Linked DNA regions of Homo sapiens: region 1 is linked to region 2. Evidence: fine-mapped expression QTL. A gene starts in region 2. The other region holds a variant in brackets. All regions are shown on one strand. Distances are between the middles of the regions. Region 1 overlaps VWA2 (von Willebrand factor A domain containing 2). Region 2 holds the start of VWA2 (von Willebrand factor A domain containing 2).

The links.
Region 1: its variant is fine-mapped to the expression of VWA2 in tibial nerve (GTEx, PIP above 0.99). The same link has a PIP of 0.9 or more in cerebellar hemisphere, cerebellum, esophagus muscle, sigmoid colon, spleen and thyroid.

The regions. Positions count from the first base shown.
Region 1 is chr10:114,287,233-114,300,112 of GRCh38, reverse strand. VWA2 (von Willebrand factor A domain containing 2) reads right to left here. Exons shown (of 14, transcript NM_001272046.2): 12 at 10,624-11,175; 13 at 9,748-9,873; 14 at 5,624-8,895. The coding sequence ends at 8,876. AFAP1L2 (actin filament associated protein 1 like 2) reads left to right here. Exons shown (of 19, transcript NM_001001936.3): 16 at 698-853; 17 at 2,700-2,893; 18 at 3,013-3,135; 19 at 4,045-5,289. The coding sequence ends at 4,071. Among named protein-coding and RNA genes, the nearest start is that of VWA2, 54 kb to the right of the region's middle. The variant TTAGG/G (reference allele first, on the strand shown) is at 5,253.
Region 2 is chr10:114,231,857-114,248,273 of GRCh38, reverse strand. VWA2 (von Willebrand factor A domain containing 2) reads right to left here and starts at 9,020. Exons shown (of 14, transcript NM_001272046.2): 1 at 8,705-9,020. TDRD1 (tudor domain containing 1) reads right to left here. Exons shown (of 25, transcript NM_001395205.1): 25 at 15,608-16,417. It also overlaps the pseudogene AURKAP2. RefSeq lists an enhancer at 8,401-9,109.

The sequences.
Region 1 (12,880 bases), 54 kb before region 2:
GTATATATGAAAGGGCGTTTATTAAGGAGAATTGACTCACACGATCACAAGGTCAAGTCCCACGATAGGCCTTCTGCAAGTTGAGGAGCAAGGAAGCCAGTGGTGGATCAGTCCAAGTCCCAAAGCCTCAAAAGTAGGGAAGCCGACAGTGCAGCCTTCAGTCTGTGGCCAAAGGCCCGAGAGCCCCTGGCAAATCACTGGTGTAAGTCTAAGAGTCCAAAAGCTGAAGAACTTGGAGTCTGATGTTCAAGAGCAGGAAGCATCCAGCACAGGAGAAAGATGAAGGCTGGGGAAGACTCAGCAAGTCAAGTCCTTCCATGTTCTTCTGCCTGCTTTATTCTAGCCATGCTGGCAGCTGATTAGGTGGTGCCCACCCAGACTGAGAGCGGGTCTGCCTCTCCCAGTCCACTGATTCAAATGTTAATCTCCTTTGGCAACACGCTCACAGACACACCCAGCAACAATACTTTGCATCCTTCAATCCAATCAAGTTGACATTCAATATTAACCATCACACCATCGTTTTCAGATTAGGAAACAAGTTCAGAGAGGTAGAGGGACCTGTCCAGGTCTGGCATCCAGCCTAGCAGGGCTTTGTGCCAAAGCCCCAGGTTCTATCCGAGCCTGGGGAGTAGACTGGGGACAGCCCTCATGATCCAGCTCTGCTTACCTGGGGCTTCCCTCTCTGGGTCTGTAGAGATCAAGCTTGGCAAGAATCGGACAGAAGCTGAGGTGAAGCGGTACACAGAGGAGAAGGAGAGGCTTGAAAAGAAGAAGGAAGAAATCCGGGGGCACCTGGCTCAGCTCCGGAAAGAGAAACGGGAGCTAAAGGAAACCCTACTGAAATGCACAGGTAAGGGGGCCCCCAGTGGGGAGGGACCCTCAGCTCAGAGGGCCGTGTAGGCTTAACTTTTTGGCGGAAGATCTGGCTGTCACCACACCTTCTCAATCAGTGGGCCCTGGCCCCTTCAACCCTTGGCCTGGGTGGGTGCTCCCTTGTGTGTCCTTTCTTCCAATCCTGTCTGAAAGGTCATTCTCCTGGACAGAGAGAGAAAGCCTCTGACGGAACATCAATAGGACCAGCAGGTCATCGTAAAAGCTAGTTAAAGGAAGTTTTACAGGGTTATGCATAGGCCGTGTTTTATTGTCACTTAAATGCATATTCCTTGGCCCATCTTTTGAGGACCTGGCACTGCAGATTTTTTGAGCTCTGGTTGGCTGACTGGAGTCTCATGTCATCCTTCATGCATTAACTACACCTGTTAATGCATCAGCCTTCATTTCCAGCCTTCATTTCTTGAAAGTCAACAAAAACTTAAGATACTTGCCAAGAAGTCTTTCTAGATTATCTTCCAAATCACACTCGTATCATTTGACAGCTATTTCCTGGCAATCTGCTGCATTTAAAATTTCAAAATTAAAAAAATATTGAGATGGGGTCTTGCAATGTTGCCCAGGCTGGTCTAGAGCTCCTGAGCCCAAGGGACACCTGCCTTGGCCTCCCAAAGTGCTGGGATTACAGGTGTGAGCGTGAGCCACCATGCCCAGCTGCAACCTGCCTCTTCTAGAACCTTTCCAAAGTATTTGACTTAGTTTTCATGGAGTAACTTTGTGCTTATTTAAATTGTAGAGGTGTATGAATAAGCAAGAGCAGCGGTGCAGGTTTGAGGACAAACTCAGCTGACTGGTGAGGGAAGGTCTTGAGGGTGCAAAGTCACCCACTGGCTTTCTTTTTTTGAGACAGTCTTGCTCTGTTGCCCAGGCTGGAGTGCAGTGGCGTGATCTTGGGTCACTGCAACCTCTGCCTCCTGGGTTCAAGCGATTCTCCTGTCTCAGCCTCCTGAGTAGCTGGGATTACAGGCATCCGCCACCATGTCCAGCTAATTTTTGTATTTTTAGTAGAGATGGGATTTCACCATGTTGGCCAGGATGGTCTCGAACTCCTGGCCTTAAGTGATCTGCCTGCCTCAGCCTCCCAAAGTACTGGGATTACAGGCGTGAACCACCGCACCCAGCTTGAACTGTATTTTTTTAAACTCCAATCTTCAAAACATTATTAGTATACGTTTTCTTTTCCTTCCCTCTTTAGAGATGGTCCTTCAATAGCATCTGTGAATTTTTCTTAAACAGTGGCCCTGTGCTCAGGACTCTATGTGGTACATATGTGATACCATCCTTTCCTCCAGCAGTGAGCTTCTAGGATACAGGCCCTAGGCATCATTTCACGGTGTGGCAGCATCAACCCAAGAGGTCCAGGGTTAACAGGAGGAGCCAGGGCTGAGGACTCCTGCTCTGTTAGGCGTAGGGAAGCCAGAGGATTGAGGGAACTTGGTAGGGCAGGTCAAGCTGCCCAGCCCTCCTCCATGGGCCATGAATAAAGCCCCTCACCCTTTTGGGTCACTGTCAAAGCAACCAAGAGTCTCTGAGAACCTACAAGAAGGGACTTAAGGCCTCAGACTCATGCCCCTTAGTGAAGCCAGAGCTCTCCTCCCCAAGAGCCTCCCAGCCTTTGCAGAATGCTAGCTAAAGGAGGCCTCCAGGCTGCCCCGGCATACAGGCCCCTCCTGGCTCTGAGTGTTGGGGCCAGACCTGTGGTCCTTCTCGGGTGGCGGGGTATGTAGACCCTGCCTCCACCCAGCAGGGCTCCCTGGCCTGGGCTGAGATGCTGTTCTCTGACACCTGCATAATTCTCTCTCCAGACAAGGAAGTCCTGGCGAGCCTGGAGCAGAAGCTGAAGGAAATTGACGAGGAGTGCCGGGGCGAGGAGAGCAGGCGCGTGGACCTGGAGCTCAGCATCATGGAGGTGAAGGACAACCTGAAGAAGGCTGAGGCAGGGCCTGTGACGTTAGGCACCACCGTGGACACCACCCACCTGGAGAATGTGAGCCCCCGCGTGAGTGCTGGAACTGCGGCCTCTGGGCTGCTTGCAGGGCTCCCTGGACATGGGTTGGGGTGGGTGGGTCACATCTCCCTCCCCTTGACTCAGCCCTTGCTCTCCTCCTATAACCACAGCCCAAAGCTGTCACACCTGCCTCTGCCCCAGACTGTACCCCAGTCAACTCTGCAACCACACTCAAGAACAGGCCTCTCTCGGTCGTGGTCACAGGCAAAGGCACTGTACTCCAGAAAGCCAAGGTAAGCAGTCACTCCCAGCCTCCCTTGGGGCCAGCAGAAATGTCACTAAGGTAGGGGCCCATCTTCTGACCCAGGTGGTGCTTTGTGGCTTTTGGCACCAGCTCTGAGCAAGGGCTCGGCACTCACCAAGGAGTGGCCATGGCTTTGCCATGCCTTCAGCTCAGTCTCTGGCACTGACCAACCAGAAAGGTGTCTGCACTTGGTTCGAGCATCCTTCCCTGTGAGCTTGGGGATGCTTCAGTTCTTGCCCTCCACACAGCTATGGGTAGATTCCAGGAGGCCAGCTGCAGCTCAGGGACAGATTATGACTGAGTTTTCAAACCAAAAAGTCAGTCAGTGACTCCACAGGACTTCTACCATTAAAACTAAAGAAACAGACTCACATAGGTGGTTTGAATTGCCCAAAGTTGCCCACCCAACTACTGGCAAAATTCTCAGCAAGTTGTGAATGAGGAATCCATGCTATGATGCGGTTTCTCCCTGATGGCTAGTCAAAAAAGTATCATTAATCATTTACTCATTTACTCATTTGTACACTAAAGAACATGCCTAGGGCTGCCTTTGCTTTTGGCAAATTCTGCTCCTTATTCCTATCCTCCTTACCTGCTGGAGATATTTGGAGGTCCCACAACAATGGCTAACCAATAAATCCATGCAAGCATCTGAACCTCCACTCCCTTGTTGCTGTGAGAGACATCACTTATAGGCACTCGCTGTTGTGCCACAGTCTCAAAATCTCTGAATAGGCACTCTAAGCAGTGATGAACACACAGGGTTTGAAACATTTATCACCTCTGTGCCTAAAATAGTTTTTCTCACATTTTTTCTATGTATATCAAGGTTGCTACAGTGGATAACTAACTATCTTTTTGGTGGGGGGTGGGTGCTGGTATTTGAATGGTACCCTAGGAATGGGAGAAGAAAGGAGCAAGTTAGAAAACAAGCTTCATCTAAAGACTCTCATGTCAATGTGGACCTTGGTGACAATCCTGCTTTGTTAAAGCAAAAACTATGCGAAAGGGTGAGTCTGTTTAGAAGAAAAAGCAAAGACTGAGGTACTGTGAATGGAGAGCTTCAGCTAAGAGGAGGCTCTGTCCCTTTTCAGAGCCAAAGGAAATAATACAACAAAAAGGAGGCTTCTTTGGAGACCTAAGTCTATTGGATGTAAACAAGACGTTGTATTTAGGGATGTTCTGTGTTTCTTTCTTTTTTGAAGTTGTCATCAATTGCTTTACTAAGATTTTTAAATAGTGAAAACCTCCTGTTTAGACTTTGGTGGAAGATGAATCAAGGAAGCAGGGCCCTGTCTTATGGGTCACGTGTCTTTGGTGAGTGAGAAGACCTAAACTCCTGGCCATCATCTCTTATCCAATACTTAGCAGTTGGGGATTAAACCATCCTTGCCTTCAGTTCTCTCCAATATTACCAGGCCCAACTCAGTCTTCAGTGATTTTAAACAGCATTGACATCATCTGTAAAACCATCATCTGTAAAACCATCTATGACATGAGTTTTGAGAAACAATAATGGGGAAAATATTTGGGACCAAGCTGAAGCACTAATCCCACTAAGTTAAAGACTTCTTTCCAGTCCAAGGCAGGCCTGAATCAACTGTCTTTAAATAAAATTTTAAGTGATGCTGTATTATATATAGGAAAAAATGCTTAAAATCCTGTCATTTAGAACAGTGAAAAGTATCTTTTGAGATTAAAGTGACTCTTTACTGTAGGAAAAATATTACTCTGTGTTTACAGATTCATTGCTGTGGTCAGGCCATTTTTAAGGGAAGAGTTATTTAATATAAATAGTCTCTGATTTTAAGTTCTGTTTAATGTTCATTCTCCTTCCAAGAACAAAGTGGTGATTTTTGGTTAGGGTGATCGCCCTCTTAAAATTGGCAGTGCTGTTCCTTGTGCTGCCCCTGTCTTTTCCTCTGATGGCATTTTTTTTTTTTTTTTTTTAACACAGGTTGAAACATTTCATCTATTATCTCTGCCTCATTTCTGGAGGGTTGTGTATCAGTTCTCTAACACTTGTTCCTGAGAACTAAATGTCTTTTTTATTCTTATTTCCTCTCTCATAAACATTTGGTGACCTTTTACCAAGTGGTGAGTTAG[TTAGG/G]TTTTTTAAAATAAAATGTTCATTGTATTTGAAGTTTTCCTCAGTTCATGAAATGACTTGGGGCAGGGCCTGGGGGGTTCTCAAGGGAGGAAATGTTTTGGTTATTTACACACTGAACTACAAGATGGGATCCTAGCAGGAAACTCAGCCTCCTTGAATCAAAGAGCATAGATAAGGCTGAAAGCAAATTTTAGTTGTACAGTTAACAACATACCAAAGACACAGGAAACATCTGCAGAAATTGATCATATATAAGTGAATGAAAAATCAGTACTCCTCCCAGAAGTTAAATATACTCCTAAAGAATTCTTGGGAAAAAAGAAACATACCAATACTGGGAAGGTTGCCTAAGTAGTAATTAAGGAAGTTTATAGCATAAATGTGTTTATTTTAAAAATGACAAAATCAAAATCGGGTTCATTAAAGAGACAAATAGACAACCTAAGGCAATATGAAATAGCAGAACTGAAATGGAGGCCTTAATACAGATACTGACAAGATTTTTCAAATTATAAAAAAATACTATGAATATATCAGTGTAAAAGTTTGAGAAATATGTATTTTCCATTATAAGGTTAGTATAGCTCTGATACCAAAAATTCAAAACAAATTGCAAAAGAAAACAAATCTCATTGTTGGACACAGATTAAAAGAATCTGAAATAAGATGTTGGCAAATGAAAAATTCAGCAGGGTTTATAGAATGATGCATAATGACCAAATAGAGTTTATCCAAAAAAATCAAGGGTTGTTCAATGATTGAAAATACACAAATGGATAACCTATCACATTAACAGATAATACAAAAAATGCATTATCTTGAGGAAGAAAAAGCATACCATAAATCTCAACATGTAATAAACACTCTTAGTTCATCTAGGAATTAAGCATTCTTAAACTGATAAGTAACCCATAGAAAACAATTATTATGATGAAAAAGTCAAGAACCAGATATGGATACATGCTACTTCATGAAACATTATTCTGGAGGTCCCAGGCAATGCAAAATGACAAGAAAAAGAAGTGGTATACAACTTTGAAAGGAAGAGACAAAACTAGCATCATTTGGAAATATTTCTCTAGAAAAGCAAGAGTCAATTATTAGAACTAGGGTATTCAACAAGATGACTGGAATCAGGATCGTTCAGAGAAAATAAGGAAATTTATGGCCTATATGCAATGTTTTAATTATTGCAAGGAAAATATATTTCTGTCTTATTTGAATAAGTAATTAAAGGTAAAAATTAAAGCTAATTTCTTTTAAATGAAAGAAAAAAGGCTTGGCTAGTTAGGCCATAGGATAGCACTTTCCTGGGGGACTGACAAAAGCTGAACTATTTAGTGGCACTGTCACTACAAAAGGGGAAAAAATGTTTCAAAGGCGAGAAACCCATTTCCTACAAAGAAACAGTAAAGGCCCTTACTATGTAAGTCGAGAGCCCACAGTTTGCTGTTTAAATCCAAGTAATTCAATCAGGGCACCCAAATACCAGCCCGGAACAAGACAAAAAGCCTACATTATAACATGGTTAAACTGCTATTTAAAGACAATGCATTCATGTAATTTCTATGACATCACTGATCAGCATCTGCTAGGGAGCATGTGATCCTGCCCCGGACGTTGTCTTCTGTGAAGGGCAGCATAATAACAAAGTTATCAATGAAAGTATCCCTTGAATATAGATGATTATGACTCAATGTCTGGTACACCAGACTTTTTAATATCTAAAATCTTGGTGATACTGCTTCAAGCGCTTTTCTAGCACCAGAAATCCTGAAGTTCTTAAAGCCAAAGTACCCTTGAATGTTTGTCTATAAAACATTATGTTACAATATTTATAAAGAAAAATGGGCCAGGCACAGTGGTTCACCCCTGTAATCCCAGAACTTTGGGAGGCCAAGGCAGGGGGATCACCTGAGGTCAGAAGTTCGAGACTAGCCTGGCCAACATGGTGAAACCCTGTCTCTAACTAAAAATACAAAAATTAGCTAGGCATGGTGGCACCTGCCTCTAATCCCAGCTACTCAAGAGGCTGAGGCATGAGAATCACTTCAACCTGGGAGGCAAAGGTTGCAGTGAGCCAAGATTGTACCACTGCACTCTAGCCTGGGCAACAAGAGCAAAACTCCGTCTCAAAAAAAAGAAAAACGATAAAGTGTCTGGAGTCACATCAGAGCTCTAGAAAGATTTCTACAGAAAATCCAACTCTAAACAACACAACCAAGGAGAAGAAGTAATTCCTAAATACTGCAGCGATAGGGAAGTAAGTATCTAGTTTGCCAGAGAATATTCCAAATATGCCTCTTTGCCACATAGGTACAAATATCCCTGTTTAATAAATAACCAACATTTCTTGAAATATTTCTTTAAAAACTGTGTAGAAAAGCAAAGCAAAACAAAATTAAAACCTAGACAGCGTAAGATCAATGCTTTAAAAAGCAAAATCTCTGTAAGTTTCTTTATCCTATATTTTTGAGTTTAAGAATCTTACTTCTCTTTGCCCCACTAAAAGGAGAATAAGGAAAGAATTCCATAAACACGCCACAATTAACCCCTCCTAAGTACATTTTTTTCTTTTTGAGACAGATTTTTACTCTTGTTGCCCAGGCTGGAGTGCAGTGGTGAGATCTCGGCTCACTGTAACTTCCGCCTCCCAGGTTCAAGCCATTCTCCTGTCTCAGCCTCCCGAGTAGCTGGGATTATAGGCATCCACCACCACCCCCGGCTACCTTTTGTATTTTTAGTAAAGACAAACTTTCACCACGTTGGCCAGGCTGGTCTCAAACTCCTGACCTCGGGTGATCCACCTGCCTCAGCCTCCAAAGTGCTGGGATTACAGGCATGAGCCACAGTCTCTGGCCGCAGCCTCTTTTGAAAGGAAGACCCTTCAGGTGGACACTGCTCACGACTCAGAACGATTTTACGTGGCCCCTCCAGACCTGGGCCCATTGCACACTCAGCCCCTCCCCCATCATCAAACAAGCTGGTTAATTGGTCACATTTCAGTCTGAGACCTTTCCAAGTCTCTTCCACACACAAAAGGCAGTCGCCAGAAGTCACAAACGTCCCTCAAGCCCCCTTTCAGACTCAATGCAAATGCATCCAGAATGTCTCTGGGGAAGTGGAAAAGCTGCTGCTTTCCATCTTGAAAGGCCGTGGCCTTCGCCGTCCAAAGGATGCTCTAGTAAAGGCCTCTGCTGGGCATTACTGTGTCAACAACATTCTGGCGAGCATTGATTGTGTGCAAAGGAACGTCAGGCCGCTAAATTTAAGTCTTCAGGACCCCTTGTTTATCCTCAAGGGAAAGGTGGCAGATGACATAGCCTCAACAAGGCACAGCAGGTACAGAAAGTGGGTATTTACTTACACATCAAAACTTTTCAACAACATCGTTTGTGGGTGACATCAGCTGCTTTCTTGTCTCTAAGCAGCATGGCTGCAGTTGGGACATCCTCCTCCCTCAGTGAGAATAGTGGTCCTGGCCACGGCGGGAAGCAGACATTCTAAGGACCTGGGGCACAGACATTCCAGAAGGTAGGCACCATTTCAGTGCCCAGGCCTTCTCTGTAGTTGCTGGGAGGGGTACGGCTGCTGCCCTCCTGCACGGGAGCCATGTGCCTCAGGGGCGTCTCAAGAATCCTGGGGAAGGAAGTGAAGTCTGAGGACAGGAGTGTCTGCATCCCCTTCTCAGCCCTCCAGCAGCCTCTGAGGACCCCTTCAGGTCCTGCTCTTACTCTACAACCCACCTCGCCCCCAGCAGAAGATGCCAGATTAGAGACCCCATGTGATTATCCTCCAGAGCTTCTCTCTGGCCTTAGGAAGCCAACCTCTGCCCGTGGCCAAAAAACCAAGGCTCCGACTGGACTTGTCTTCTGATTTCTGGCTGTTCTAACTTCAAACTCATGAACAGGAGCCATAGTTGGACCTCTAATGCCTCCCAACGATCACTCTCTAGGTCCTAATCTGTTACCCTTGACAATGACTTCTTTTCTCTCAAACCTCTAGCACCTCCTCCTCGTCCTCACTTAGCTGTTCCTCCCATTTTACTGAGCAAATAGCACCCCAAAAAGAGCTTCCAGCAGCTCCCACCACCGCATTTACCCATCCCTGCCTCCGTCTACATCCCTGTACCCTGGATCTACTGTGCTCCTAACTGTGGCCTCCCTCCTAGTTGTCATGACTTTCTCCGGGGTGCTTAGCACCGTCTACCACACCACATGTTGTATTATTTGCTTATTGTCTGTCTTCCCATTAGAATGGAAGCTCCATGAGGGCAGAGGTTTTATTCATTTGTTTACTGCTATGTTCCTGCACTGAGAACAATGCCTGGGATGCAGGAGGTACTCACTAAATGTTTCGTGGGTAAACGACTGAATAATTTCTTCCACTGAACGAATGTTTTAGAACCTGCCTTCAGCTGAGTTTGTGGGACTTGGCAGGACTCGCAATACCATCCCTGGCTCACACATACAGAGCAAGAGCTCCACTCACGGTTCTCGCAGTGGGGGCCCTCCCAGCCATCCCGACACTTGCAGCGGTAGCTCCCATTCTGCAGGACGCAGCTGCCCTCATTCATGCACGGGCTGGGTTTGCAGAGGTTGACTGGCTGCTTGGCTTCTACAATGGAGAACACCATACCCACCAGGCCGGCCAGGCATGGGTTAGACCCGAAGACCCCTACCCTAAGTAAGCCCAGTAGAGGTGCAAGGCTACTAGAGTCATGTCTCCCTTTGCCCCGGTAGCTCATGGTTGGTGCTGCATACCACTTGGCTAGGTTAGTAAGACCCAGCTCTCCTACAGACTCATGGAGAGTCCATTGCTCAGACGTGCCATACACATGGCAGACTTTTTTTTTTTTTTTTTTGAGGCAGAATCTTGCTCTTGTTGCCCAGGCTGGAGTACAATGGCGCGATCTTGGCTCACCACAACCTCCACCTCCCGGGTTCAAGTGATTCTCCTGTCTCTTTTAAGAAGGTGAAGAGGAGGTCACTGGATTTGGGCTGGCCTGGCCCTGTTTGCTCTGGGCTCTGTCACTGCCCAAGTCAGTGTGAATGTGGGATCTTTAGACCCTTAGGAAGCTTGTGGATATTCTAAAAGTGTGTTCTGTTTAAAGGGAATGCATAAATTCTCAAGTTTGGGGGGAGTTATCTATGTTAGTTAAACTTTCTGTACCTTAAATGTCAAATAGGATGGTTATGCCTACTGTAGGATTTTATGTGAGCATGGGGTTTAGCACAGAACCTGGCACTTGGGAAGCAAGTGCTCAGTAGCTGGGAAGAGCTGCCATCCTCGTCATGATGTATGTGAAGGCTCAGGCTGAGGGCCTGCCATGGGGGCAGCCCTGAGGGTGTGGATTCCCCCACTCACCTCCACACAGCCACTCAATGAGCACGTCCTGGTGGTACCGCAGGTCGGCGTAAGCTGCCACGTGGATCAGGGAATCCCGGGGACCTGCAAGCCTCCGCAGACCCTCACTTAGGACAGGCCCCACGCCCACGACCAAGACAGAGATGCCATTGTTCCTCAGCTTCTGGGCAGGAACGGCTGCATCCTCTGCGCCTCTCCCGCCTGTGAGCACCACCACAGCTTTGGGGACACCAGGCCGGGCACCCCTCTGGACGGTCATCACTTTGTCATAGATGTGCAGCAGGGCGGTGCCGGCTGAGCCCACCCCACCTAGGTAGGGGGCCTGGCTAATGGCCCGCAGCATCGCAGCCCGGGTGGGTTTGGTGTCCAGCCCGAAGGCAGTCTGCACCTGGCTGCCATACACCACCAGGCCGACCTGTGTCACGTCAGGGTTCACCTCAAACTGGAGGGCACAGCTTCTCACAAAGCTCTGCATCTGAGCAAAATTCTCGGGCCCTACTGAGGCAGAGGTGTCCAACATGAAGACGAGGTCCAGGGCTTGTGTCCGGCACCCTGCAGGAGCAAGCAGAGGGGCTTCAGCAGTGGATGTGCCAGTCAGAGCCCCTCGACGGGACCCAGGGACTGCCAGGTTGGGTAGGACCAAGGTCAGCCAGGGTGCTCTGTTCACTGCAGAATACACCCTCTATGTCTTCCTTTTAGCCACAGAACAGCACTTTCCTAGAATATTAGCAGGAAGATGAGTGCCTGCCAGACCACATTTCCCAGACTTCCTGGCAGCTAGGGTGGCCACGTGTCTAAGTTCTATCTGACGGACGTGATCAATTTCAAACTCATGCAGCTGGAAGCTGCTTACCTTCCACTTCCCCTCTCCCCCTTCCTGCTGGCTGAGAAATGGTGACCTTGGACCTCAAGGTGGAAGCCATAAGATGACCAAGCCCTGCTGGCCCGGGCCACTCACCTCTGAACTGTATGTGAGAGAAATAAGTTCCTGTCTTATGTAACCCATGGGGTTTGGGTTTGTGGGCAACCCTTTGTGACAACATCTTCACCTGTGCCTTCATCCATCCCCAGTATGCAGGGCACTAATTAGATGCTGTATGGACAAAATGGGCCCATGCCTGCTGTCAACAGGCTGACAGTCTAGGGGAACAGACATGAAATGAACATAGAATTACAAATGATGTCGGCAGCGTGGAGGGAAAAGCAGGGGACTTCGAGAGAGACCAGTAGGGGAACATAACAAGACTGGGAGAAGGGGTCAGAGCTTCTCTGGGGAGGTGACATTTCACCTAAGAACTGAAAGACAAGTAAGTATGAGCCAGAAGGCCTCTCCTGTGCAGGGGATGCAGAGAGGCCTGTGGGGACCAGGCCACAGGGAGCTCTCAGAAGCCAGGGGAAGGAGTTTGGGTTTTATTCCAAGTGCAAAGGGGAACCACTGGAAATTCTAAGTATGGAGTTAGAGGAGCTGATGCTCTGATTACTGGTTTTTAAAACCACTCCCACACCAGGAACGTCTGAGAAACTATCACAGCTACGGGGAAGGCGGCTGACTACATGTACTGTGGGGTCCTGGATGGGATTCTGGAACACAAAAAAGACATTAGGTAAAAACTAAACAAATATAAATAAGCATGGATTCACTAAATAATGATGTATCAATACTGGTTCATTAATGATAACACTGTGCCATACTAATGCAAGGTGTTAATAGGAGGGGAAACTGGGTGTGGGGTATAGGGAACTCTCCACTATTGTCAATTATTTTTTCCTATAAATCTACAACTATTATTTTTTTTAAAAAATCCAACCAAACAAAGCAGCAGAACAAAAGCACTTAGACCAGCCTGGAGGGGCAGGGTGGGAGTGGGCAGCCAATCCCTGTCCTTCCGCCTTACAGGAGGGAAAGCCTCTCGCCTTGGGGAGAGTGGTGGCATCAGGGCTGAGAAGCAGAATCACATCTGTAGCTTCCCATGCCCACCTACCAAGGGGAGAACTCCAGGAGCCCTATAAAGGCTTACATTTCACTCAAGCCTGTAATCCCTCCACTTTGGGAGGCTGAGGTGGGTGGATTGCTTGAGCCCAGGAGTTCGAGACCAGCCTGGGCAACATAGCAAGACCACATCTCTCTAAAAAATAAAACAATTAGCTGGGCATGGTGGTGTGCACCTGTAGTCCTGGCTATTCTGGAGGCTGAGGTGGAAGGATCACGTGAGCCCAGGAGTTCAAGGCTGCAGTGAGCTATGATCGTGCCACTGCA
Region 2 (16,417 bases):
CAATGTCCTCATCTTCTGAAACCTTCTAATGTGGTTAACAAACCTTCCCCTAGCTAAGAAGACAACATCTGAAGAAAGCCTGCACTATCTAAATTATCCACTAATCATCTAAATTATTTATAAATCGTAATCCGGCTGAAGGAAGAGGACTTTTTTTTTTTTTTTTGAGATGGAGTCTTATTCTGTAGCCCAGGCTGGAATGCAGTGGCACGATCTTGGCTCACTGCAACCTCCGCCTCCCGGGGTTCAAGTGATTTTTGTGCCTCAGCCTCCCGAGTAGCTGGGACTACAGGTACATGCCACCACACTTGGCTGAGAAAAATTATTTTTTGAGAAGTTTTTTTAAAAAAAAACTTCACCACCCATGCAGGAGCCACACCTGCCCCATGGTGGCAGAGAGCCTACATGAACCCAGGGGCCCTCATCCTCATCCTGGTGCCCTGTGACCTTGGGAGAGGCTGTGGTTCCTCCCTTACAAAGTGAAGAGAAGGGCCCTGATGTGGCTAAGCTGTTTTATGGTTTTAAAAGTCCCATTGGACTCCTGCCTCCATCATGGACCTATGATGTTTGGACCTCAAGATACATCCAGCTCCGTTTTGTTTTTTTTTTTGACATAGTTATTTGCATATTTAAAGTTTACACACATGCCATGACTCCAGTGTTTTTTAAAAAATAAGCCCTTCGCGGTGGCTCTTGTCTGTAATCCCAGCACTTTGGGAGGCCGAGGCAGGTGGATCACCTGAGTTCAGGAGTTCACGACCAGCCTGGCCAACACGGTGAAACAGTGTCTCTACTGAAAATACAAAAAATTAGCCAGACATGGTGGTGGGCACCTATAATTCCAGCTACTCAGGAGGCTGAGGCAGGAGAATCACTTGAACCTGGGATGCAGAGGTTGCAAGTCCCTAAATGGAGGTAGAGCATGTGTTCCTATTTTATACACTCTCATATGGGAGATAAGTGGTTAAAGATGACTAGAAACCCAACCAGGCCTACCGGGGTGCTGGACAGACACAGAGCATTTCTAAGGGAATGCCACCAGAGAACAAATACAAATCTGTACAGAAATCTTTTTTTTTTTTTTCACACTTAAAAAGAATCACATCCTCATTCCAACAGCTTTACTAGGCTTGGCCAACCCAATAAGTGACACACTCACTCAGGTACTGGGAAGGTTATTGCACAGCTCCTTAACCGATCGAGTCAGGGCAAAGTGGTCACTTTCCCCACAGCCACACTCTGGATTTGTCTCCTGGGAAGAAACCATGCCTGGCCCAGGCTGAGGGGGCAGCTGCAGCGGAACCTTGCCTCCAGATTACGAACCAGTATAAGTAGCACAATTCTTGTGGCTACTTTCACTTCAGAGTGTCATGTTTATTGATGTGGAGCTTTCTGAATAGGGAGGTTCAGGCATTGCCAGGTGCTCAGTAAAACAAATATTTCTTGTAGCGCTCTAGATTGAGGGCAGCAGTCAATGGTAAAATAAATTTTAGTAGCATGTTCCTGAAAGGTTATACAGCAGCCCTGGTTCAAGGATTTCTCCCCCTGCACGATTCCTAAGACTGTTTGCTAGTTGATTCTTTGTTTTGGGAATTTAATGGTTTTGATGAATTTGCTGTGATCCAGGGGTGTTCAAGTACTTCTCTGAGCATTGGCCTCTGGCTGGGATTATGCTTCAACAGTCTTAAAATGAGGTCCTGGGTCCCTCTGTTACAGTCAGGGAATGTGAATTCAACCCATGATACTCGTTTTTTTTTTTTTTTTTTTTGAGATGGAGTTTCTTTCACTCTTGTTGCCCAGGCTGGAATGCAATGGCATGGTCTTGGCTCACTGCTACCTCTGCCTCCCGGGTTCAAGCGATTCTCCTGTCTCAGCCTTCTGAGTAGCTGGGATTACAGGCATGCGCCACCACGCCCAGCTAATTTTTGTATTTTTAGTAGAGACGGGGTTTCACCATGTTGATCAGGCTGGTCTTGAACTCCTGACCTCAGGTGATACGACCGCCTCGGCCTCCCGAAGTGCTGGGATTACAGGCGTGAGCCACCATGCCCAGCCCAACCCGTGATATTCTTTTGTAGGTCTCTTGGTGTACGTTTGCCTCAAAAGGAGGCTTCCCAACTAAAAATTCATAGCAAAGAACACCAAGGCTCCAGAGATCTACCTTCTCACCATGCATCTGACCTCCAATCATCTTGGGCGGGGGGCGGGGGCAGGTAGTCCAGGGTGCCACAGAGAGTGGTCCTCCTGGAGGATGGAGCATGTACTGACCACCCAATATTCTCAGACTGTGTGGTTATTTCCATGATGCCACCAGATTCTACCTAATTCTAAAATATGCACCACTTGGAACTGTCTATAGAGCTCCTTGGATTTCAAAGCAGTCCTAAAACAAACTATTATAAAACAAATGTCCCTGCCAGCTGAGAGTCTTCGTGCAGGGTCTTCCTGCTTCAAATGACTAAGAGGCTCAAGTCTTCTCCTGATCTAAGTGAAAATCAGACACCTAACATGGCAAGAGCCAGTATGTCAGGAGCTCTACAGACACGATCAAAGGGAGAAAGGTGGTGAGAAGGATACTGGCCTGCAGCACATACTTCCTGCTAGCTTCCAGCCCTGTGCATGCCAGCAAGAAAGACTCATTTTCCCCTAAGGACATTTTTTTTTTCCCTCTTACTCCACACCACAGAGGCAGAACAAGCCCCCACCTGCCGCCTGTGAGTCAGGCAATGGCGAGGCATTGAGGATGCGGTGAAGAGCTTCTCAATGCTGTCTCTATTCCTTAGGTTCAGGACGATTTTACGGAGTTACAGCTTCTGACCCTGGGCACTGGCAGGAGACTGAGGCTCAGGCCTGTTAATTATTTATAAAACAAGGATTCTGGCAGCCACCTCCCCAGGCTGCTGTGAGGATAAAGTGGAAGGAAGTACAGAAGGTTCCTGCCACATAGGAAGGCACCCAGTAAACACAGTCCCCTTCCCTCCGTGCTATGAGACCAACTTAAGCAGCTTGATCTCGATCCACTATGTGCCTCTGCTTGCCCAGCTGCATGTTTTTCCAGAGGCGCCCAAGTTTCTGCTCATTAAAATAGAATGTATGTTGGCAATCTGCAAATGCACACAGGATGTCAAATGCCTTCTCCTAGCTGTTTGGATCAATCAGACGGTGTTGGCTCTGCAACTTCTGCAGCACCTCCCTCCCCTGTCCCCCTCAATACAATCCCTACTGTCACACAGCCCACGCTGAAACTGCCCAGTGATACGTTTGTCTTGACTGCCAGGCGGCAAATGCCTGAGACTACAGACTATCTAGTCTCTGCTGGAGCTCCAGAGACCTGCATGTGCCTGATGTATAGTAGGGGAGGTCCTTGCTTGCTAGATAAACAAAGCACCAGAATACCTCCTGTGGGAGGGCTAGAGGGACCCTTTCAGGGCATCATTGCACTCACTGTGTTCACTGCATTCTTTTTTATACCAAGATTAATGAAATGAACGCTATTGCGATGATGTTGAAGTATTGTTTGCACTCTATTCCCATCCAGTCATCTCGAATAGGCAGCTCATTCCCCTCTCATATCAAAATTTTCCTACAATACTAATTTGACCTCCAAAATACAGCCCTACACCTGGAAAGCTTTTTTTTTAAAGGGTGAATTCCACAATAAAAATCAACAGCTACTACCATGTAATGAGCATTTCTTATGTGCCTGCCACAAGACACACAGGCTCCGCCCTTCATGTCTTCTCTCCTAATCCTCGCAGCCAGCCAGGGAGGGTGTACTATTCCCATTTCACAGGTGAGGAAGCTGAGACATGGAGAAGTGAAGTGTTCTGCCCCAGCTTACACAGCTAATCAGTGGATCAGATTCCATTCTGGCCTCCTAGCGTCACCTTCCCGGTTCTGGGGGAAGCTGCCACAGGATGTTCAACAAGGGAGAGGTGTTGGGGCTGCCGGTAAGAGGTGACACTCTGGCAGAAGTCCAGGCTCCAGAAAACAGGCTATGAACTAGAGGCAGTTCAGAAGCACAGAAGCATAATTTAAAAAATCTGCCACCCTGAATCCTGCACGTTGGCAATTTCTCCCCCAGCTAATACCTGCCAGCAGCTCTCACACTCCATCCGGCACAAGATGAGATTTACCAGGGCCCTCTGGCTTCCTACAAAGTAGTTGGGAGTGATCTGCAAGCCAGGGGCTGGAACAGACCACCCATTCTCAGGTATGCCTCACCAAGCCTTTTCCGTTACACCTCGCTCATCACCTTGTTCCCTTCTGTTCCATTACTCATGCTAATCCCACTTGTTATTCCTGGCTTCTGGAGTTCTCATCCATGGATGTAGATGCTCTCCACGCCCCTGATCTCCTCAACAGAGTGTGGCCTTCGGATCCTGGTTCCCACGCAGCACCAGCTGCACTTGGGACAGCAGGCATGTGAAGTCTGCTGCAGGATGCCACAAAAATTTCCACTGTGCACTACCCAGGAATTACATTTTCCGTGACACAGGAAGAAATAAAAGCCAAAACAAAGCTACTTTTTAAAAAAAGAAGAGCCGGATTGGGGATCGCTGAAGGCAGTTTTGCAGGATAATGTCTGCCTTCTCTACCATCGGAAATGAAATGAGTGTAGGGAAAAAGAGGAAACCATTTCTACCTCCTTACAAAATGCAATTCCAACCCCAAATAGATTAGCCGTTGGCAGCCTCCTCCAAATCAGCAGGATGGAAATCTGAGCCCTTTACCAGAACAGTACACACCTGAATGGGAAGACTAAAATCAGAGGTAAAAATATCCGGTGGGGAAGTCCTTGCTGGAACAATCATCTTCCTTGTAACCTTTGGTAAAATATTTGGCTCAGGCTCAGAGTGTCAACGGAGGTAGATGACACATTTCTAGTTTGATATGGCAGAGAGAGCATTTAAAAAGCTGCCTGGGGAAAGTCACGCTCCCCCTAAAATAATTAGTAAATTTTCAGAACCCAGTGGCCTAACAACCAAAAGTCCGCACCAAGAAATAAGCAACATGCCATTTGTGAACTCCCTGGAGGGTTAGGGAGAAAAGCTGGGAAGATGGGCATAGATCACAAGCCCTCCCATACTTTCTGCATCTGCAGACACATTTTTAGCCAGAAGAGAGTTCATGTTTGTTTTGATGGATGATATCTGAAAATGCTTTAAATTGTACACAACCCGATTTCACTGTATGGGACACTGGGATTAGCCCTGAGGTGTGGGAGAACACACACAGGACCCAAAGTCCAGAGACAGGATTCCAACCTAGCTCTGCTCCTAGCAGCTGGGTGACTGCAAGCAACAACCTCCCCTGCCTTAGTTCCTCATCTGCCAAATGGGGAGAATCTGTTTCATAAACTCCCCCAGTGTTGTAAAGATCCAGTGAGACAGGGTAGAAAAGTCTCTGCTAAATAGTAAAATGTTTTCTAAATGAATGATGTTAAAAGTTTATCATTACATTTAATATATTCATTTCATTTAACAACACCCATAATCTGTAGGGTAGATATTATCATTTACATCTTTATAGATGAAGAAATGATCTTGGAGAAGACGAGACCCAAGGCCACAGAGCGAGAAAAACCCAGCTTAGAGTCCAGCCCAGGACTTCTCAGCTATGACCAGAAGTACGCGGTACACAGATGCACTGGTACACAGAGGCACGTGGTACACAGAGACATGCGGTACACAGAGGCACCAGTACGCAGAGGCACACAGTACACAGATGCACTGGTATGCAGAGGCACTGATACACAGATTTACTGGTACACAGGGGCACTGCGGTATGCAGAGGCACTGGTACACAGAGGCACGTGGTACACAGAGGCATCGGCATGCAGATGCACCTGGTACTATGAGGCATGCGGTACACAGATGCTCTGGAAAGAGCAACCATCTGATGGCAGGATACCTGAGCATGAGCCTCCTGGGTAAATTCCTCCACTTCAGTCTCTCAATTTCCTTCTCTCTAAAACGGAGGTAACACCATCCATCCTATTTCCCTGGAAAGGTTGTCGCCAGGACCCCATGAAACCACGATGCAAAGGCTCCCGGGGCAAGGGCAAAGTTTCCTAATTTGAGACCAGGGAAATCTAGTTCAAGAGAAGAGACTCATGATCAGGAAAAGGAAGGGGAGGACCGAGGGTAGTAATCACATTCAAGGAAAGTCAGCAGCTAATGTGGTAGGTGGAAGAGGAAAATTAAGCAGTCCAGAGCTGTTTAGAAGACGAAAGGTCACACAAAGGAAGGGACTTCAAATACATTCAGCTGTCCCACTGTGCTGCCTTGGGGTTATACAGAAACATTTTGCAGGGAATGCACACACACAATCACCAACAGACTTCCAATAGCCTCCTTGATGATAGGGAGGGGGGTGGGATTTGTTTTAAAATAGCCTTATTGGATAAAATTAAAAATGAGCAATTCTATTGCAGGCCTCCCAATTAAACTAGGTTTTCATTTACTGATATATGCACTGCAAAAGTTTGAGGACCACTGTTCTAAAACAACCTCGTAGTGTTGCTGACCCTCTCATTGCTATAATTACATGAAATTTCATTTACCCAGTAAAAATTATTAAGCATCTGCCCTGTGCCCGGTACCCTTCCAGGTACTGAGGATGTGAGGACAATGCTTTGTAAGATGCACACACATCAGGGGAGTTATTAACAAAAAAGGCATTTTCACCACAAGCTTATGATGCCGTCACTGCCAAATAACTATTCTGTTTTTATGATGCTCATTAAAAAGCCAGGAGGGGAAATGTCAGTGTATATTACCGAGCGAAAGACACCAATCTGAGAAAGCTACGTACTACATGATTCCAATCATAAGACATTCTGGAAAAGGTAAAACTATTGAGACAGTAGAAAGATCAGTGATTACCATGTGTTGTAGGGAGGGTGGGATGCACAGAAGATTTTTACGGTAGTGAAACTATGCTGTTTGATACTATAATGGCAGATTTATGTCATTTTACATTTGTCCAAAGCCATAGAATGTACAACAGGAGCAAACCCCAGGGCAAACTGTGAACTTTGGGTCATAATGATGTGCCAGTGTCGGTTCATCAGTTGGAACAAATGTACCACTGCAGTGGGGGATGCTGACAATGGGGGAGTCTGTGCATAGGCGGGGACAGGAGGTATATGGGAAACCTGTACCTTCTGCTCAATTTTGCTTTGAACCTAACACTCTAAAACTGGGTCTCAGTTTCCTCATCTGTAAAAACATGGGCTTCTGACTATGATTCGGATATCCCAGGGGCTTGTGCCTATTGAAGAGAGGGGAAATACTGGCTGTAATCTCTGTACGGTAGACCAAAAACCAGATTTAATGAAAATACACTGATGGTTTTCAGCCAGAGATGATGAGGAAAGCAATCCTCTTCTCCAACCTGGGATTTGCCTGGGGACCTAGTCTGAGAAATTCTTACACTACTAGGAGATGGCTCTGGGCTGGATTTTACAAAAGAAGAGTAAGGCCTGAGGAGCTCTGAACCCCCATCAGTCACAAGAGAGGATGGCTTCAGCCTGCTGAAAGCCAGCAGCATTTACAAATTCATGCCTGTGGCTTTTGCCAACTCTAGTGGTACCTTTCTGACCTCTTCACTTCTCTGACTCTTCAATAAATCGACATTTCTTAATATAGTGTCACCTTAACAGCAAAAGAGACCTTGAATTTTTGGGACTGAATTTATAAAACACTTAGAGGTTCTGGGGTTTTACTTAAAGCAGCTTGTAATTTGAAAAATGTACACGTTCTAATTATTCCAATCTCCAAGACATCAAACACATGGCATGAGGTCCCCATTGCTAAGTCCCCTTTCAGCTTCAGCTGGAGCCCTTGATTCCACAATCACAAGCAGCAAGGTGCCCTCCTCCCTTCTCTTCTGTCTGGTGCCCCCAGCAAGTTTTCAAGGTTCAATTCTGAGACTCTCCCATTCACCGTCCCAGCAGGTGGCCAAGGGCCCAAGGCGGGAGGGAAAGGTCGGCTTAGCTAGGGAAAGTTTTGTTAGCCTTATTGGAAGGGAAGGAGACATGCAGGAAGCAGGGCTGAGCCAGGTGGGGGAAGTCACCAGAACGACAAACCCCTGGACTTCCCACTGCCCAAGCGCGAGGACTCTCGGGGCAGCCGGCCCCTCTCAGGTTCTGCTTGCAGACACTTCGCTGGGGGCACTCGTTCTGCCTGGGAAAACTGCCCCAAGTCCCCTTAACACCTGTGTATGTCCTGTAGTGGGGTGTGGGGTGGAAGCGAGCATGTCACCAAAGCCTTTATTCAAAGGGCGAGTCCCTTTCCGCGGCCGCCAGGGAAGGGGGCCCCGCTACTGTGCCAGGAGGGCAGCTTGGGTTTAATACATGCCCTCCTCCACCCCTGTACCCGGAGCCCCTACCCACTTACCTGCTGACCGCACCCCTCCCAAAACCCCGCCAGCTCGCCCGGGACGGACCGCGAGTGGCCACGAGGGAGGCGCGCGCCAGGTGCGCTCTTCCCCCGACGCCGCCGTGCCAGGAAGGCCGCGCTCAGGTGCGCGCAGACAATGCGAACAAAGCCCGCACCCTCGGCGGGGCCGCGCAGCCCGGGTGCTCTGGGTAGGGGTGGCTGGGCAGAGGGGGCCCCAGTACCGGGAGCGTGAATCGGTCATCGGCAGCCGGCACTGGCGGGTACCCGGGCGCCAGAGCCAACTCGGGGCTGGGACTCACCGGAAGGAGAGCGGCGACCAGCGCTCGGTGCCCGGGCGGCTCTACTCACAGACCCGGGCGCGGCTCGGGCCAGGGGGCGCTACGGGATCACAGGAGGGGCGCCCGGGGCGCGGCTGCCACGTGGGACACCTGTTTGTCTCTCCTGGGAGAGGGCGGCACGACCCGACCCGGCTGAGGTCGGAGGAACTACCGCCAGGGAGGTGCATAGAGCCCCTCGCGTTTTTTAAAGCGGCATCGGCCCAGGTCTGCAAATAAAAAAGTACTTCACTTCTACGCGGGTCACCCAGCCTCCGAGCGGTGCAGCCGCGAACACTGTGCCGTCAGCTGACTCCTCCACGGGCTTTATAGCTCCTTGAAAAAATGTTGACTTTGGCATCTTTTCTATTTGTCATGGCAATTGCCTTTTAATTACCTGTCCCTCCTATTGTTGCAGTTGGGTAATAAGCCGACCTTTTGGCCATCATCCTTGCTTAAGATTGGAGGGCGTTTGATTTTTAAAAAATCAAATGCCACAAAGCACAATGCTGAGCATGATGCTTTATATAAAGTAAGCTCTCAATGAACGTTGACTATGACTGCACAATCCATAATTTCCATACTTCATTTAAAAACTGCCAGAGCATGCCTGTTCATTGCAAAAAAAAAAAAAAGAAAAGAAATAACAGTAAAAAAGTTGATAAATCAATCATTTTCCAACACCCAGAGATAATCAGTTAACATTGTGGTGTATGTTCTTCCAATGTCATTCTACCTATGCAAAAATTTATATATTTTTAGTTCATTCCATACAAGCTGTACATTACTCAGGTTTTCCATTTCCTTTTTTTGAATGTCCGTTTTAAGCCACTTCATAATGTCCTAATGTACTTAACCTATCTGCTATTGTTGAATATTAAACTTTCCATTTTAATAATACAATTAGATGTCTTTGTGCTTTTGTCCAATTAATTCCTTAGAATAAACTACGAAAAGGTAAATTTCTAGGATACAGGTTTTATACAACTTAAGACTTTTGATGCCTATTATCTAATTGTCCTCAAGGAAGGTTGACCTGCTTCCTCTTTTCCATGCTCCTTCCCATTATTCTTGTAAATGTCAATCTGATAGGAAAATAATTTGCTTTACACCTTTCCTGTCTGTAGTTCTCAGTTAATTTCCAAACCTCCGACACTGACAGCTTCCAGTGAAAGTGGCCCGTGGTGACTTTAATGTTGCAAACCTCATTGAAGGAGGCTAGGAAAGGACTCATTTTTCCTGTAATTCATTTCTCCCAGTAACATTTACTGAGCACCCAAAAATAAAAACAGGGCCACACCAGAGCAGCAGACATAATGTACCACCACATCATCCCCACAGGGGACAGCAGTTAGTCTTGAGGTCTAACTGCTGGGGAGGGATGGTCTCTGCCTCTAGATCAGCATTGCCCCAGAGAAATACTGACCAAGCCACGTGTGTAATTTTAAATGTTCTAGTGGTCACATTTAATAAAAAGTGAAAAGAAACAGCAAGCTGGATTTCAGTATTAACCTAAACATCCGGAACATTATCTCAACATGTAATCAATAAAGATGTTTTATGCTGTCTTCAAAGTCCTGTTTTTTTGTTTTTTTTTTTTTTTTTTTTGTTTGAGACAGAGTCTCACTCTGTTGCCCAGGCTGGAGTGCAATGGCATGATCTTGGCTCACTGCAACCTCTGCCTCCCAGGTTCAAATGGTTCTCCTGCCTCAGCCTCCCGAGTAGCTGGGATCACAGGTGCACACCACCATGCCCGGCTAATTTTTGTATTTTTAGTAAAGACAGGGTTTTGCCATGTTGGCCAGGCTGGTCTCAAACTCCTGACCTCAGGTAATCCACCCGCCTCAGCCTCCCAAAATGCTGGGATCATAGGCGTGAGCCACCACGCCTGGCCAATCCTGTTGTATTCTATACTCACAAGCACATCTCAATTTGGACTCGCCACATTTTTAAGTGCTGTATAGTCAAATGGGGTGAGTGGCCTGTGCTGCTCCAGAGATGTCCAACAAGGGCAGACCCCAGGTCCTCAAGAAAGTGGAAATTCTACCTTTGACAACCCTCTCCCTGTACCCCTTATGCTGTTTAACAGGTACCAGCATACTTTGACCTTATCAGGCTTACCTTGGAGAAGCCAAATTTCAATCCTGGTTGTTCCTGAAGTATTTGGCATGTCTTTAATTGGGGGCGGGGGGGGGGGAGGTATTTCACATTTTCATTCTGTGATTATGAAGAACTGAAAGCATAAATACAGTGAAGATACCTGTTGCTTCAGACTTCTTCACATCAATGTATAATCAGTCTGTCCGGGGTGTGCACTTGGGCAGGAGGGAAGGCAGGTGGTGCAGGCCCTGGTGAGTGCTGAGTGCTGAGTGGGTGACCAGCAGGGGTGGAGGCTTTTTATGCAGAAAGCTGGGTAGCTACTTTTGTCATCCATGACATCCCTTCCTTTGTGAAGATTTACAAGGATTTAAAAAATAAAGTTATTATGAATTACAATCATTCTAAGGGGCATGTAAGCTTCTTGCTTCCCAGGAGCTTGCCTTATTCATCTTTGCAGCCCAATGCCTGGTAACTTGCACACAGTAAATGCCCTCAGAAATAAAACCCCATGTCCTCCACTGACTGAAAGGACCCCCTCTTGTCCAAGGGGACCCCAGAGAAATATTTTTGAGACTGAGTCTCGCTTTACTGCCCAGGCTGGAGTGCAGTGGCTGGATCTCAGCTTACTGCAACCTCCGCCTCCCAGGTTCAAACGATTTTCATGCCTCAGCCTCCCAAGTGACTGGGATTACAGGCGCCCACCACCAGGCCCGGCTAATTTTCGTATTTTTAGTAAAGATGGGGTTTCACCATGTTGGCCAGGGTGGTCTCGAACTCCTGACCTTAAATTATCCAGAGAAATCTTAAAAGCGGAGTTCCCATATATGACTGGAAGGGAGACGGGAAACAGCTTGTTATACCTGCTCCTTCACTATCAGCCATTAGTTTTTTTTTTTTTTTTGGAGAAAGGGGCTTGCTCTGTTGCCCAGCCTGGAGTACAGTGGTGTGACCTTGGCTCAAGACCTGCCTCGACCTCCTGGGCTCCATTAATCCTCCCATCTCAGCCTCCCGAGTAGTTAGAACTACAGGTACGTGCCACCACACCAGGTTTTTTTTTTTTTTTTTTTTTTTTTTGGTAGAGATGAGGTTTCCTTGTGTTGCCCAGGCTGGTCTTGAGCTCCTGGGCTCAAGCAATCTGTCCATCTCACCCTCCCAAAGTGCTGGGGTCACAGGCATGAGCCACAGTACCCAGCCTTCTTTCTTAAGGGTTAAACAGAAACCAGCCCTTTGGGAAAGACTTGCTCCACCCCTGCTATCTTTGAGGGTCTCACTGTATCCCCCAGGCTGAAGTATAGTGGCACAATCATAGCTCACCACAGCCTTGACCTCCTGGGCTCAAGCAGTCCTCTTACCTCAGCCTCCAGAGTAGCTGGGATTACAGCCACGTACCATTGCACTGGTGGTTTTTTTGTTCTGGGTAGAGATGAGGTGTTGCTCTGTTGCCCAAGCTGGTCTTGAACTCCTCAAACTCAAGGAATCCTCACAGTGCTGGGACTGCAGGTGTGAGCCACTGCACCTGGCCTCTACTATTGATATGAACCAACCACTTGATGCTGCCCCTTCCTTTTAAGGTTTCAACAAACCAAGCAACCAGCATTCCTTCCTAAGAGACAATGGACCATGGAGTGGCTCTGGCTAGTCTATAGAAGATGTACCATGAGAGTTGTGTCCTCTGCTTCACCTTTTGACCCAAGAGGGCCAAAAACTCCACCCCAGAATCATGCTAATACCATTTTTTTGTACATGTAACCCATCAAGAGTCATGAAGCTTAATTGCACATGTACATCTTTCATAAATATTCATGACTCCTCCTATAGTTTACTGTGTATTTGGCCACTCCACTCAGCATAAATTCCTGTCTTATTTTTCCCAACCTGGAAGTGTGTTTCTGGTTTCTGGCTGGAGGCTACACTTTCCAGACTGTAGCAATGGCTACCCTGCCAGTGGCCACGCTTTATGAAAAATAAAGCTCTCCTTTCCAAATTCATGAACTTTCTCATTCTTCAGTTGACACCTTCTATGATGTTAATTCTCAAGTTGCGCTGTCCCGTGTGTCTCAGTTGTAAACACAAGAGGTATAAACACAGAGTCTTAGTGTAAACTGAGAGTGTAAACACAGAGGTGACTGAATTTCACTCAGGGATAAATGGAGACATCCGTACTCGGTGACATGCATCACCCAGAGGCACCCATTGTAGTAAAGTGACTGTGGCTTCAGATTAGGGGGCTCCTGCCTACTGGCTTTGTAACACAGAAAAGAAACTTAACTTTTGATTGCTCAGTTTCCTGACCTATAAAGGGTGATGGGTACAACAGTTCCTAACTCTAGAATCCCAACTAATATTTTGATCCAGTCCCTCAAATGATGAAAGGTAAAGCACACACGAAAGGAACAGACAAAAAGGAGGATGCTTAATAGAGCTCCAAGAGTTGTATATTTTCCAGAAGCCACATAGCAGCCACTAACCAGAGCCCTCTTATTGAGAAATAAAAGAACACGAAACAGTACCTACTAAACAGCAAAGAAACCATCCTAGAGGAAACAAAGAGCCTGACTCAGAAGCGCTCAACAAGCAGCAAATTAAGCCAGAGCCTAATTTGGTCTGTGGTCTCTTAACTGTGGAGCCAAGAACAAGGAGAACAAAGTTGGGGGCAGAGAGAGACACAGGACATGAGGAGCAGAAATATTGCCATCTCCAAGCCAAAGCCACTTAGGTATGGAATAGGCAGCAATTGTTTGAAGGGTTAATGCATCCATCCCAGCTCCTACTTAAGACAGTGAGAATTATGCGCAAAGTTGTATTGGATTTGCTTTTGGGAAATGTGCTTTCTGGCCGAATCAAGTAAACATGGAACAAAGGCACACGCTTGTGTAATAACCACTCAGCCAACATATGAAACTTTCTAAGTGCTCTACCTCAAACTGTCAATACTTCCATGTTATTTCCATCTCCTCTCCAAATTCCCAGTATCATGAATTTTAGTCATCACATGTCTGCCTTAACTAAGTATTCATGGAACACATTTAGAGAGGCATCTGGGTATACTCTGGAGGCAGAGTAGGCTCCTGCCTTATAATAAGCATCAGAGTCTGTCTCACTTCCTGGAAGGTTCTCATCACAGGAGATAGGGGCCTCTTCATCAAAAGGTTAACACCACAAGGTGTTAAAAATGGCATCCCCTCAGGGTGATAAGGGAAGCAAGCAAGCATGGAAAAAATGGCTAAGGCTTGGCAGCTAGCTAACACCTTAAATGAAGCCAGTTTTAGGTTACTTGAAACTATAGCCAAAATGCAAGAACTTTCCTAGGAAAATCAGACTGCAGCGCGTAGACCAGGGCAATACCAGAACGTTAATGGTTGGTTCTCTGGGTGAGCCATCTGCAGTTCTCACCCTGTGCGACTGGGCAGTAACCTTACTTCTAACAGAACTTCACCACCTTAATTCCGGCAAGTAAAACCATTCTACCATTCTTTCTTAACTGCATGTTTAGAACCACAGGTTACCCTCCAATTCCCTTTATCTGGAAAAAGCAAAAAACACTCCGACAATTTTGTGTGTATTAAGGGCTGTTTGGATGCAAGTAGGGCCACAAAACCACCTACATGGGGAGGAGCCCAGGTGTCCTCTTTGGCTGATCCCAGAAGAGCTCGACTTGCCAATTCCAGGCAGCTGTGTTGGTGAGGAGCCTATTAGTAACACTAGTGATCTATTGCTCGTGGCTGACACTCTCTCAGCAGTGAGCCTCACAATGACTTAATTTCTCTCTGGGAATTTGGCAGCTTAGGGTCCCGCTGGTGAGGATCTTCACGTGTTGGTTTCCGGAGCTGTTATTACATAGCAAGAGAGATCAATTTCAGAATAGTAGTTAATCCTCGTTCACAATTTTGAGACTTTTACATTTCTAGCTGCTGCAGCAAAAGAATTTTAGCAAAACAAGAAGTGTATCAAATATGCTCCTTATCCCCTTGTCAACCCCCAGGAGTTCACTGTTCTTATGATAGAAATCTCCTCCCTGGCAAACTGGGTAAGATTTATCTTAATATTTACAAGGCCTCCACCCAAGACTAAATCATTTGTTCAGATATACGGTCTCAGCTCTATGGTACTTATAACCAAACCAGATATTCTGAGGGGATCTGAAGACTGAAGCTCTACTGTATTTATGACCAAACCAGATATTTTGAGGGGATGTGAAGAACATATTAGCTGGTATGATAGAGCTGTGCTGGCCCAAATAAAAAATCTGGCACATACCTCAATGTCAGACTCATAGCTGGAGCTCAAATATTCATTGAACGAATGAAACATGCAGCTGGCACATTAATCAAAATCGGAAACATGTTAAATCTACTCAGAAGGAAGACCTGATGATCCAGTATGTCTCATTAATCCAAGAGACATTTAACCTATATCTCTATTTGTGAGGCTAGTGCTATAGATACTAGTCTCTTTTGGAGAACAAGGCAAATTAGCTGAATCAGCAAATAATATTAAATTCCATTTAATTAAAACAGTTCCTATTCAAATGTCTAGTACCATAGGATAAAATGTTACAATTTGAAGCCAAACAATGACTCCTGATTTTTCTGTGTTCCTTGATTTGTTTCCCTAATTTTCCTTAATAAAACGGCAATTGTGTGATTGCATATTCTTGTATTTCCTCTGTGGTTACAAACAATAAAGCAGACAGTATGAACACATTAAGCCTCTAATTCTCCCAGTATGTACAAGAAAAAAAAGGAAATTGGCAAAAATGCCTGCAGTAAGAAAACAAGAGAAAGCTGGTTGGGAAGTGAAATAATTTTATTGGGCAAAGCAGCGTGAGCTTTTATCTAACAGAAGCACATCAGTGTTTTAACAACTTTTTACATGAGGAAATATCCCATTTAACAGATTAGACAACGTACATTGCCAGTAAAAGCAAAAAAAAAAAAAAAAAAAAAAAAAGTCTTTCAAGTATCTGCTGAGTTGGTGAGAAACATCTTAGGTTTCATAGTCTGACAGTTAAATCATGAAAAAAATTCAAACTTTGGGGTTGGCAGGAAAGTCAGCCAGCCCATAATTCTGCATATGCGTGGTTTAGGAGAATTTGAGATTATTTTCATGCTTCAGGAAAAATATACACTCTTCGTTTTTTTTTTTTTTTTAACCTTAAACTGATAACTGTATTTGGGTTTCAGAAACAGTAAATTCTATCTATAACAACAAAAATCTAGCTACAGATTTCTAAGGTTGTGGACACAGCAGGAGAGGGAACATAAAGTTCCTTCTCCAGTTAGAGTGGTCCAGAGGTCAGACTCTGTGCCCAAAGGCCAAAAGAAAAATAATCCAATTAAGGACGGAGAGAAAGAAATTGATGACCTCTGAGTGAACAGAAAAAGAAGATAACAAACATGAAAGCAAAGGACATTATGTGGAAGAGGCAGACGACAGAGAATGCAGGGAATATTACAAAATATTTCAAACGGACAGAAAATAAAACTCATATCAACTTTTTTTTTTTTTTTTTTAAGACAAAATCTGTCACCCAGGCTGGAGTGCAGTGGCACTATCATAGCTCACTGTAACCTTGAACTCCTGGCCTCAAGGGATCCT